4 separate regions of the Homo sapiens genome follow, and regions 1, 3 and 4 are each reported to be linked to region 2. The links are microRNA targets in miRTarBase. Many come from high-throughput screens and were not tested one by one. Region 2 holds a microRNA gene; each other region holds the end of a gene's coding sequence.

What was found. Region 2 holds the annotated microRNA hsa-miR-5094 (AAUCAGUGAAUGCCUUGAACCU, at 965-986, opposite strand). A microRNA usually pairs through its seed, bases 2 to 8, with sites in the 3' UTR of a target mRNA and lowers its output. Matches are read on the target gene's strand: a 7mer-m8 pairs with bases 2 to 8, a 7mer-A1 pairs with bases 2 to 7 and ends in A, and an 8mer does both.
Region 1: the mRNA of PIGM is a reported target of hsa-miR-5094. The part of its 3' UTR that is shown has no 7-base or 8-base seed match.
Region 3: the mRNA of ABCD2 is a reported target of hsa-miR-5094. The part of its 3' UTR that is shown has no 7-base or 8-base seed match.
Region 4: the mRNA of MATCAP1 is a reported target of hsa-miR-5094. Seed matches in the 3' UTR shown: 7mer-m8 at 1,832-1,838.

The regions. Positions count from the first base shown.
Region 1 is chr1:160,027,788-160,030,971 of GRCh38, forward strand. It overlaps PIGM (phosphatidylinositol glycan anchor biosynthesis class M), which reads right to left. Exons shown (of 1, transcript NM_145167.3): 1 at 1-3,184. The coding sequence ends at 2,681. Among named protein-coding and RNA genes, the nearest start is that of PIGM, 2.6 kb to the right of the region's middle.
Region 2 is chr15:89,849,726-89,852,909 of GRCh38, forward strand. It overlaps MIR5094 (microRNA 5094), which reads right to left and starts at 996; the gene lies at 912-996. The region is part of intron 8 of ARPIN-AP3S2 (ARPIN-AP3S2 readthrough); the gene reads right to left. All of the region lies in intron 4 of AP3S2 (adaptor related protein complex 3 subunit sigma 2), which reads right to left. RefSeq lists an enhancer at 1,992-2,041.
Region 3 is chr12:39,551,215-39,554,214 of GRCh38, reverse strand. It overlaps ABCD2 (ATP binding cassette subfamily D member 2), which reads left to right. Exons shown (of 10, transcript NM_005164.4): 10 at 84-3,000. The coding sequence ends at 303. Among named protein-coding and RNA genes, the nearest start is that of ABCD2, 67 kb to the left of the region's middle.
Region 4 is chr16:67,174,220-67,177,219 of GRCh38, forward strand. It overlaps MATCAP1 (microtubule associated tyrosine carboxypeptidase 1), which reads right to left. Exons shown (of 7, transcript NM_001040715.2): 7 at 1,380-2,756. The coding sequence ends at 2,592. NOL3 (nucleolar protein 3) reads left to right here. Exons shown (of 4, transcript NM_001276309.3): 2 at 1-245; 3 at 402-725; 4 at 828-1,518. The coding sequence ends at 835. Among named protein-coding and RNA genes, the nearest start is that of NOL3, 5.2 kb to the left of the region's middle. RefSeq lists an enhancer at 1-208 and silencers at 106-365, 1,739-2,168.

The sequences.
Region 1 (3,184 bases), not on the chromosome of region 2:
TCCCCCAAGAAACCAAATTAACTCATTTTTTTAGTTAACTTACTAAATGTTTTGGAACATACAAAGTGCAAAATATCTTTTGCATCCCTTTAAGAAACACCTGCCTTTCTTTGGTAAAGAATTTCTTGCAGGAAAGATTCCAAAGTTTGAAGTTCCCTCCAACGATCCCAGCAGAAATGTTTCTAACTTCTAAGAATGTCCTAAGAGAATGAGCTAAAACACAGAAAATGTTGAAAGTCTTATTTAGAATATTAAAAACTGGAAGCAATCTAAAGGTCTAACAGTGGAAGAATGATGTATTTATAATGTGAATATACATGTGATGTCCAACAATTTCAATTCTAAGTATGAAGAGTAAGCCACAATAAAGAATGTTAAAAAACAATAATTAGTAAGTAAATATAATTATAAAACCAAGTCAGAAATACAAAAAAAGGGACAACTATACTGGAATGATGAAATTCGATTTCTGTTTCCTGCCTCCTCCCTTGCTGGCTCTATAATTTTTTTTTTTAATTCTTAGAATAGGAAAAAAAGGTAAGAATGCTATGGCTGGAAGGCCACTAGTAAACAAGCACATATAAAGGGTCCTCAAGACAAGACCTAATATGGGTATGAAACTAAATGTTATAAGGAAGGTCATTGTCCTCAGCAACTGACTCTGCTATTTTTACCCCAAACAGGAGCCCATACAAAACCACCCCATTCTTTCCCTCTTTCTAATGAAAGGTCCCAAAAGGTATCCATCCAAGAAGTGCTGCCAATAATAACATTGTTAATTGTGACCAGCCTATAAACATCTTATTTGCAAAGGATTTTAGGCCTGAACTGACATGAAATATAATACTGTGGAACTTTTTTTGTCTTTTTGTGAGTGTTTTCTGACTGCAAAAGAACAGTTCATCAAATTACTTATCTTTTAAAAAACACAATCACAAAATCATATTCATATACTGCTACTGTAGTATTAGGGAATCCCAAGCCTAGACAGGCTGTTTAATTAAAAAAAAAAATGTAAGGATGCTTGTTTAAACAACTCAGAAAGCATTTTTCCCCCAGAAATATTACAGTGATAAGGGAAACGATCTGACCACCTAAGCCTCAGTTCCACAATCTCCCTCTAAATTCTCTGGTCTAGAAAACCCATGGCTCTCTGGGATGCTTCTTATGCTTTTCAGGAGTTTCCCTCACAGGTCTGCATTTCTATCATGGAATTTTTGATTTTTTTTTTTAAGCTAGGAAATGTCTTACTAACAAGTTGTTTTATCACCTAAAATCTACTATTATCCATTTTTACAACATAGATAACACTTGGTTGACTTAAATTCTAGAAGAAAAAAGTCTTGCTTTAGCAATCAAAAACTTAAAAACAAAGGGGTAAGAGGATACTGAAATGTACTAATAGTTTGTGTAGGACCACAAACATTAAAGGCAAGATGATAGTTTTAAAAATGTAATAACTCAAGTCTAAACATGAATGAATTTAAATTTAATCCTTTTTGTATGAAACCAAATAGCAGTCTAATACCACTGGGACTAAGTGCTATAAAAGTAAGTAATAAAACAAATACATGAAACATGATTACAATTTAAATTCTTTGGATTATCTTTTTTTTTTTTTTTTTTTGATATGGAGTCTTGCTCTGTCGCCCAGGCTGGAGCGCAGTGGTGCCATCTCGGCTCACTACAGGCTCCACCTCCGGAGTTCACGCCATTCTCCTGCCTCAGCCTCCCGAGGAGTAGCTGGGACTACAGGCACCCACCACGCCCGGCTAATTTTTTGTATTTTTAGTAGAGAGGGGTTTCACCGTGTTAGCCAGGATGGTCTCAATCTCCTGACCTCGTGATCTGCCCGCCTTGGCCTCCCAAAGTCTTTGGATTATCTTGTAAGACCCCACATTTAATATAGAAGTTTAAAACTCTCTAAAATAATACTACTAAGCATCTTAGTATTATTTAATACTTTTCTATCTAAAAAGTTGTCCTTTCCTTTTTTTTTTTTTTTTTTTTTTTGAGACAGGGTCTTGCTCTGGGCTCAAGCAATTCTCCCACCTCAGCCTCCCATGCAGCTATGACTACAGGGGTGCACCACAACACCTGGCTAATTTTTTTTTTTTTTTTTGAGACTAGGTCTCACCATCTTGCCCCAGGTGGGTCTAGAACTCCTGAACTCAAGCGACCCTCCCACCTCAGCCTCCCAAAGTGCTGAGACTACAGGCAAGGGCCACCATACACAGTTTAAGAATATTTTTTGGATTTTCACAGCTGTCAGGAAAGCTTTAGAAAGAAAAGATGGGTGTTAAAAGTTAAGACACAGCTTAAGACAGAAGCATTGTAAAACAGGAACAAATACTGGCTTAAACCTGATGTCTCTAACTATATTCCTCTATTTTAAGAATGTTTTAGTATCTGATAGTTTCATCAGCCTTTCCATTTTCCAATATGTGACCTTTATTCCCACCATGTCCCAAATAAACGAGTCCTAGGATTTCCTAGAAGGTGGACCTCAATTATTGTGTCCCTTTTATATATAAGGCAAACATTGCTTTTAAGTTCTGTTGGAACATGGGAACTTTCACTAGAATGCTTAGAATGTTCAGAAAAAATGTCCCAAAGCTCTCTTCTGGTCCATACAAGACAATCAGAATGTAACACAGTAGCAGAGGGTGTGGAACATACACTAGTCATATTTGATTCTCTCTGTCAGGGGTTCTTCTTTGTAATGGGAAATAATTTGAATCAGGATGGAACAATTGATAAGAAGAAAGAACAAACCAGCTAACCAAATAAACAGAAAGGTGTTCTTTCCTTGAAACTCTAGAACATAGGCAGGAGCCAGCCACATGGCCTGCCCTATAAACCATAACATTAGGAGAACTACAGCTCTTTTCCAAGGCATTCTGACTAGTGGCATCACAAGAGGCAGTAAGCAGAGGTACCAAAGAAAGTACTGGGAGGTGCAGACTTTGTTAAAAGTCACAAAAATGGACGTATGAAGAAAACAACAAAAAACGAGGTCTCTGTAATAGGCGAAAGACACAGCTGAAAGCAAGATGAGCTGTGGCAGGAATGCAGCAATTCCCAGGGAAAAACTCCACTTGCTCTCTGCAGTCAAATACAGCATGTAGAAGTACGGAGAAAAGTTGTGACGGATATCCCGCCTAGTCAGGTGATAAAAGTAGGT
Region 2 (3,184 bases):
ACATGCAGGTTTTTACATAGCTATACACGTGCCATGGTGGTTTGTTGCACCCATCAACTGGTCATCTACATTAGGTATTTCTCCTAATGCTACCCTTCTCCTAGCCCCCTACCCCCGAGAGGTGCTGTTGTGTGATGGTCCCCTCCCTGTGCCCATGTGTTCTCATTGTTCAACTGCCATTTATGAGTGAAAACATGTCGTGTTTGGTTTTCTGTTCTTGTGTTAGTTTGCTGAGAATGGTGGTTTCCAGCTTTATCCATGTCCCTGCAAAGGACATGAACTCATCCTTTTTTTATGGCTGCATAGTATTTCATGGTAAATTGTATTTTAATGCTAAGATTCCTTCAGGAACTCTCAGGCACATAGAGCTGTCTGGTCCTAAGCAGCTCTGAAGAAAGCAAGCCAAGAAAGCAACTTTGCTTTGTAAAGTTCTGTTTTTCCCTTTCACCTGCTCTTAGTGTCTTCTGAATCACTTTTATGAACTGTTTGATCTTCAGACTGGACATTTCCATGGTTTTCCCTAGATGTCTTCTTGTCATAAAATTCCACAAGACATTCAATCCCTAGCCATTGATTTCTTTCTCTCTTTCACTCACAGGATCATACATTGTTTCAGTGGGCAATGAATGAATCCAGTGGAGCCTTGTCTTACACATCAGATGAAACGGCTGGCTGGTTTAGGGGCCACAGAGATTGAAAATTTGTTTTAAGCATTAGAATCACTCTAAGCACTCTACGATACACATGAGCACAGGCACATGAGAGCAGAGGCAAAGAAGAGCAGATTCAAATCTTCCATGTCACACTCATTCCAGACATATACTAATTAAGTAGAATTGAGGGCATATTCGTACTGTATTTAGAATTTTTCATTTCCTTTTTGTTTTTGGACAAATGGATAGAGTTGAACAAGTTGAATGTTTCAGTGAGCCCACTGTACCTACCACATAAAAGGCAGTGTGTTAGGTTCAAGGCATTCACTGATTTTTTTCTTTTTTTTTTTTGAGACAGGGTCTTGCTCTGTCACTATCACTCAAGCTGCAGAGCAGAGGCGTGATCATGGCTCACTGCAGCCATGGCCTCCCAGGCTCAAGTGATCCCACCTCAGCCTCCAGAGTAGCTGGGACCACAGACCTGCATCACCACACCCAGCTAATTTTTGTATTTTTTGTAGAGACAGGGTTTCACCATGTTACCCAGGCTGATCTCAAACTCCTGGGCTCAAGCAATCCTTCTGTTTCAACCTCCCAGAGTGCTGGGATTACAGCACCTGGCCGATTTTTCACTAAAAGAACATAATCTCTAACAATGTCTATTTTCAAATATGCTTAACATCACAGATTGTTAAGAGCTGGAAGAAGGAAATGAAGATAAGATGTGGACCCTGTCCTTAAAGAGCTTAGAATCAAGTAAGAAAGATTAAACATGTACAGAATTAACTATAATAAAAGGAAGTCTGTGATAAATACCATGACCCAAGTACAAAGTACTATGTTATTTCAGAGAAGGGTGGCCTTAAAACTAACTGGCAATTGGAGGAAAAGGCATCCAGGCAGAGGGAATGGCAAATTACCTAGCAACTCATTCATTATTCTTCATGCTCTACTAATTCATCTTCTTTTTTTTTTTTTGAGACAGAGTCTTGCTCTGTCCCCCAGGCTGGAGTGCAGTGGTGCGATCTCAGCTCACTGCAACCTCCGCCTCCTGCGTTCAAGCAATTCTCCTGCCTCAGCCTCCTGAGTAACTATGATTACAGGCATGTGCCACCACGCCTGGCTAATTTTTCTATTTTTAGTAGAGATAGGGTTTCACTATGTTGGCCAGGCTGATCTTGAACTCCTGACCTTGTGATCTGCCCAACTCGGCCTCCCAAAGTGCTGGGATTACAGGCATGAGCCACCGCGCCCAACTCAACTTCTTTTTTAATTAATAAAAGGATCACTCACTCACTGGCTTCATATTTTATGCTCTTTGAATATATATAGTTGACTGCAGTAAAGTATACTCACTACATATTATTACTTCCTTTTTTAAAAAAACCAGTTCCTATTATGAGTCAGGGTTCTCCGTGAAATCATTTTTTTTTTTTTTAATGTTCTAGCAGGACTTTTTCTTTCTAACCCAGTGTTTCATCCTCCTTTGGCTACTACCTGTTTGCACTGCTGATCCCAAATGCCAAGCACAGTGCTAAGTACAGAAAAAGATCCAGACCTTGTCCTTTTGAATTTCATCCTTCCTTGGTTGCTTATCTGCTAAGAAAACATGACACAAACACATTTCCCCACATTTAGGATGTCAAAGCAGGCGGGAATACTACAGGCAGCATTGCAGAGTGTAGAGGGAGCGGGTCCATAATCAGAGTCCAGGATCTGAATGTGGCTCTATCACTTACCAGCTGTGTGACCTTAGAGAAACTGAGGCTTCCTACCAATAAACCTCAGTTTCTTCATCTGTAAAATGGGGAGAACCAGAGTTCTTAGCTGCCAGGCTTATTCTAAAGATTAAAAAAGATGATGTAGGAAATAAATGAGACACTGTATATAAAGCACTTAGCTATCTATTACGTGCCTAGTTCTTAGTAAGTACTCGGATGTTGGTTAATTTGGTAGTTATAATCAAAGTCATCTTGACCAACCTCTTTCCCAGTGCAGGATTCTGTTCTTTGGCTCCTGCAACAGTATAGATCCTTCACTCTGGTGACAGATCCTTCGCCTCCATGAAGAGAGCTCACTACTGTTTCCAAGCTGCTCAGTGGGCTGTTGAGCAGCAACAACTGTCAGAGAGTTTTTAACTGTACTGAGCTACAACAAGCATCAAATAATTTCCACCCCCGATCCTACCTGTGTCTTCTGGAGCAACACAGAGTAAGTCCCTGCCCTCTACCCTGGGATTCTATCACTCTGCCTAAGGCAACCACATAGGCAGGCAGATAAGTGAAGCACAATTTGGCCATAAAACAAAAAAAGAAAAAAAGTCCAAATGCCACACCTAGATCCCATAAAACTGTTTCTAAGGAGACCATCTCCATCCCCACAGTTCCTGCTCCTTCTAAATCACTGCCCATGGAACAGCCCTGTGCCCCAGTCCACCTGCTCGCCCTTTACATGCTGGCTCAAAGACTTCCAAAGCTGTAACATCCCTAAACACAAGTTACAAAAATAGTTCAGTATCACTGGAGTGTAAA
Region 3 (3,000 bases), not on the chromosome of region 2:
GTATCAATTTGAATGATAAACCTACAACTAAAATGATTTTTCAACATTATGGCTAATAATATTATTTCATTTTAATTATGCAGGAAATACCACACACATTTATTACAGTTTGATGGTGAAGGAGGTTGGCGCTTTGAACAATTGGATACTGCTATCCGTTTGACATTGAGTGAAGAAAAACAAAAGCTAGAATCTCAGCTAGCTGGAATTCCCAAAATGCAGCAGAGACTCAATGAACTATGTAAAATTTTGGGAGAAGACTCAGTGCTGAAAACAATTAAAAATGAAGATGAGACATCTTAATTTGTTTTGACATATTTTAAAAGTTAATTATTAGATAAAGGCTCAAAGACATTCTGTTATACTGCATGAAGTATGTTAAGCTAAGCACAGAGAAAAAAAGGCAGCAAGACATGTTTTATAAGATTTTAGCATTAAGGAAGTATATGATCTGACTTTTCAGAAGAAAATAAACAAATGCATTATGTAAGGTCAGTCATTATGACTTATACTAATTCCTAGTGAAGGCCTAATGCACTTGTAAAACAGGATTTTCTAGGTGAATTCATGATGAATACCAGATTTACTATGTATATGTGGTGTGTCTGAAGTTCTTAACAAACATGGGCAATATTCTGGAAATGAAACAAGTTAAACTGAGCAGCATTTGGGTTGATACCAAGTGCATAAGATTCAAACTTTGAGTGACATTTAGTCCATTTATGGTTGATATTAGGTTTAATAGCTAGAATTCAAATTGATTATTGCTAGTGGCCAACTAAACCTGTACAAAATAGCTGACAGTTTTATAAATAATTTCAATATAAAAATTGTTTTAATGGCATTTGTTGAAAGAAAAAAGCATGGCTAAAATGTATAAAATGCCATATTTTTAAATTTTGGACTTTAAGCATCTTAATGAGGGCATATAACAAATTAATTTTAGTACAAATCTTAAATATTTTTAATAAATCCTTTCATTTTAAAAAGAGAATTGCCAATACAGAAAAGGAGTATCCAAACAATGTCTCAACCTGATAATTTCCTTAGCAGAATTACCTATTGCAACTTCTGTTCAGAAATACACAGCTTGTTTTTTTGCCCAAGGATGAGTCTACATTTTAAGAACTGCAATGGTATAAAGGAACTTAAGGATTCTGAGAATCATAGTAATAACATACATTGGAATAGTACTTTATAATTTACAATCCCCATTTACATCATTTCACCTTAATGTTGATGACAATGTTTTGAAACAAATACTATTTTTCCTACTTTGCTTTTGAGAAAATTGACACTCAGACTTGCCCTAATCATGCACTTTACTTAAGGAAAGATCGAGAAATCAAATGAAGTTCTCCTGACTCTCTGGTTTAGTGCTCTTTTGTTATTATCCTTTAAATCAAACTGGGCTATAATAGCAATAAAAGTTAGACGAAGTGTAGAAAATAAAATAAATTTCATAATGTTAGTCTTATTGTTATTTGGTTATTGTTTACAAGAAATGAAAATTAAGTACAAAGTGCAAAGATCATTGTTCTGCGGCTTAAAATGAAATGAGAAAGTTAGTAAATCATTCAGCAACTATGCAGTCTTACTCAATATTAATGTACCTCTAAGGCATTAGCAATGAGAAGGGCAAATAATTATGGTTTTGGTAAAGTTAATATTTATTGAACATAATGAGAAATAATCTATATGGACTAGTCATATGAAATAGATTTTATTCTATTTGTGTGCACTGGAGCTGGAAAGCCAAGACTGAAACTTTATCTCTTGCTGCCTGTGATACCACATTGACATACCAGAAGAATATTGGAATGATCAGTTGTTAGTGGCCTAGGATTTTATTTGCCTGTTGAGACACAGCCATAATAGATGTTAAGTCTGTGATTCTTAGACTTTTCAGGTGATAGAGTACCTGGAAGTCATTCATAATGATCGTTATAGAACATCATAACATTTCTACATTTTCAATTCTGCCATGATAGCTAGTGTATTTTTAATTTTCAATAAATGTAACCAACTTACATGAAGGAATGCAATATAAAATTATAATCAGTACATTTGTCCAACGTTTTCATTAGTATTATCACCTACTTATTCATCAGTTACTAATATTTCCTGTTAGAAAAGTGAGGCAGGAATTAAAGATTTTTTTTTAAGAAGCATGGAACCAAAACTTAAACTTGCTAAAAATTATTCATTAATCTTTTCTACATAAGTGATTATCCAGTTTATACTGCTACAAGGGCAAAAGTCTGAGGCAAGTGTTTTAAGTTAACTTTTAAAGGTACAAGAAGAAAATGAAAAATCCTCATGTGAAAGATGTGTATAATTTTCATGCCTTAATTTTCATAATATAAAAATAAAACATAATTTTAAAACAACCTGATAATTTTGTTTTGAAACATTGAAAAGAATGCCAAAACAAATATTAGATTTGTAATTAGTCAGTATTTAATATATTTTACCCATGAGCTAAAGCAAAAAAGACTCATTATTTATGATGCACAGGATTCAAAGATGCCTAAAATTCTGTATTAAAAACTATGTACACTGTAATTTAAATGTTAAAGTTCTAATATGCACATGTTTTCCATGAGCTTTTTGTGCCTATTTGTTTTCTGAATTTATTTTTCAGGACCAACATCCTTAACTTGGAAGGGAAAACATCTCTGATTTGAACTTGTATTTATGTACCATTCAATTGTTTCCAAATGGTCCAATGGGTATACCATATTTTACTACTCTTATATTTTACGGAAAACATGAAAAAGACTGAGAAACTAGCCATTTTTGAATACAGCAAGGGATAGATGAGGAAAGGAAAAAAGAAAGAATATTTCAAGTTTCAAACTACTTTTACCATGTTATATCTATTTGCCCAAACGTTTGACATATTTTTGGTCAAACAAAAAGCTATAAGTTTATGGAGCTTGAGTTTAAAATGTGCATTCTTTAGGTTAACTCTTAAACTTGAAAAATAAGTTGGATTCT
Region 4 (3,000 bases), not on the chromosome of region 2:
ACGCCTGGTCGAGACGCTGCAGGCGGACTCGGGACTGCTGTTGGACGCGCTGCTGGCGCGGGGCGTGCTCACCGGGCCAGAGTACGAGGCATTGGATGCACTGCCTGATGCCGAGCGCAGGGTGCGCCGCCTACTGCTGCTGGTGCAGGGCAAGGGCGAGGCCGCCTGCCAGGAGCTGCTACGCTGTGCCCAGCGTACCGCGGGCGCGCCGGACCCCGCTTGGGACTGGCAGCACGTGGGTCCGGGTGAGCGCGCGGGGCGGGGCCTAGGGCAGAGCAGGGACGGGGCTGGGGCAGACAAAAGGCCCGGGGAGGGCAGGGTTGTCGTCTCCGCTAGAAGTAGGCGAGTGTGAAACCGCACAGGGGTAAATTGAGCCTCAGTCACTCCCACTTCCGCCCCAGGCTACCGGGACCGCAGCTATGACCCTCCATGCCCAGGCCACTGGACGCCGGAGGCACCCGGCTCGGGGACCACATGCCCCGGGTTGCCCAGAGCTTCAGACCCTGACGAGGCCGGGGGCCCTGAGGGCTCCGAGGCGGTGCAATCCGGGACCCCGGAGGAGCCAGAGCCAGAGCTGGAAGCTGAGGCCTCTAAAGAGGCTGAACCGGAGCCGGAGCCAGAGCCAGAGCTGGAACCCGAGGCTGAAGCAGAACCAGAGCCGGAACTGGAGCCAGAACCGGACCCAGAGCCCGAGCCCGACTTCGAGGAAAGGGACGAGTCCGAAGGTGTGAGTCCGCCCAAACCCTGAGCCGGCTTGGCGGGAGGGCATGGCCTGGGAAGCGGATGCCGGACCCCACCTCTTTGACCACTGTTCCCGTCATCTCTAGATTCCTGAAGGCCAGAGCTCTGACAGGCGGTGCCCCGCCCATGCTGGATAGGACCTGGGATGCTGCTGGAGCTGAATCGGATGCCACCAAGGCTCGGTCCAGCCCAGTACCGCTGGAAGTGAATAAACTCCGGAGGGTCGGACGGGACCTGGGCTCTCTCCACGATTCTGGCTGTTTGCCCAGGAACTTAGGGTGGGTACCTCTGAGTCCCAGGGACCTGGGCAGGCCCAAGCCCACCACGAGCATCATCCAGTCCTCAGCCCTAATCTGCCCTTAGGAGTCCAGGCTGCACCCTGGAGATCCCAAACCTAGCCCCCTAGTGGGACAAGGACCTGACCCTCCTGCCCGCATACACAACCCATTTCCCCTGGTGAGCCACTTGGCAGCATATGTAGGTACCAGCTCAACCCCACGCAAGTTCCTGAGCTGAACATGGAGCAAGGGGAGGGTGACTTCTCTCCACATAGGGAGGGCTTAGAGCTCACAGCCTTGGGAAGTGAGACTAGAAGAGGGGAGCAGAAAGGGACCTTGAGTAGACAAAGGCCACACACATCATTGTCATTACTGTTTTAATTGTCTGGCTTCTCTCTGGACTGGGAGCTCAGTGAGGATTCTGACCAGTGACTTACACAAAAGGCGCTCTATACATATTATAATATATTCGCTTACTAAATGAATAAGGACTTTCCAACTGCGTTTCTGAGTTTTACAGATGGGAAAACTAAGGCCAAAGGATAGGAGTGGGGTTCACACAGCTAAGTCTGAAGGGAAACTGGAAGCAGCAACCACCTCTGCACCTCACCTGGTCTAAGAGGGGTTCAGGACTTGGGCCACCAAACTCTAGGGCCTGTCCCTCAGGTGCAATTGCAGCTGCTCCTAGGCTATGCCAACCTCTGCCAGAGAGCAGCTGTGAGGGTGTGAGCAAAGACAGGAACAGCAGAGGCCAGTGGAGGGAGTGGGGAACAGGGCCAAGGGAGCTCTTGGGCTTGACTCTCAAGGCCTGAATCAGTGTGTGTGTGTGTGTGTGTGTGTGTGTGTGTGTGTGTGTGTGTGTGTGTGTGTGTGTGTGTGTGTAATGGGAGTGGGGCTGGGAAAATTGGTGCCTTCCAAGAAGGAGTGTCCTGTCCAACCCCCCGCACCCCCACGGAACCTTCAGGAGCTGCTGCTCCCAGCCACAGGAAGTAGACCATATAAATATGGAATAAATACATGACCAGTGAGAGAGGCAAAATGTCGGAAAGCAGACCCCAGGCCAGCTGGGTCTCTACTACCAGGACCCCAGGCTCAGGCCATCAATCACCCCAGGAGAAGGGAGCCCGACCCCCACCAGGACCCAGTGAGAGGTAGACAGCACAAATGCTGAAGGAGCACCAAGGGGCCAGGTAAGGGAAGGGAGAGACTGGAGTACTGGGACAACCAAAGCCATCTCATGCAAGAACAAGTTTCTATTCCCAAACCACCCCCATCCCCATCAATGCTCAGCTCTCTTCCTGCCCCCATGCCTTCCCTCTGCTCAACAGAGAGCTGGAGGCAGGAGGGCGACTCAGTTTGCCAGACATGCTGCTGCAGGTCCCCAGACCCCAGGGAGGCTGGCAAGGGACACAAACACTTTGATGTTGCCACTCCTCCTCAAGGAATGCTCCTGCCCTCCCAACACCCCCAAGAAACACCTAGGCCGTGGACGCACAGAGCAAACTGCTTCATGTTCTAGGGGCCTATCTGGAGCTTCTGTCCAGGGCCTCTGACTGCAGCCCTCAACGGACATCAGTCGGGTAGCAGGCGACCCAGCTCCGCCTCATCCAGCCGGTTGGTGGCCATGATGTGCTCCAGCTGCTGCCGGTAGCGTGCCAAGTCCTGCATGAAGTGGGGCACCCGGGTATTATCCAGCACCCCATGGGGCCGCAGGTGGTCCACATCCTCATAGGACACCTGCAGGAGGAAGCCGGGCATCAGGCATAGGCAGTGGCCCCTGGCTTTCAGGTAGCTGGTCCCAGCCCACTGCTTACAGCTCACAGCCTTTGCTCCGGGACTTCTTCCTCTCCCCTCCTGATCCACAATTAGCTACAACGTTTTATACCTCTAGACTCAATCCTTCATCTTTGCCCTTTCTCTCAACAGTTTCTTTTTGTCATAGATGCCCTACAACCCCACTTCTCTCTCCAGCCCAGCCTCT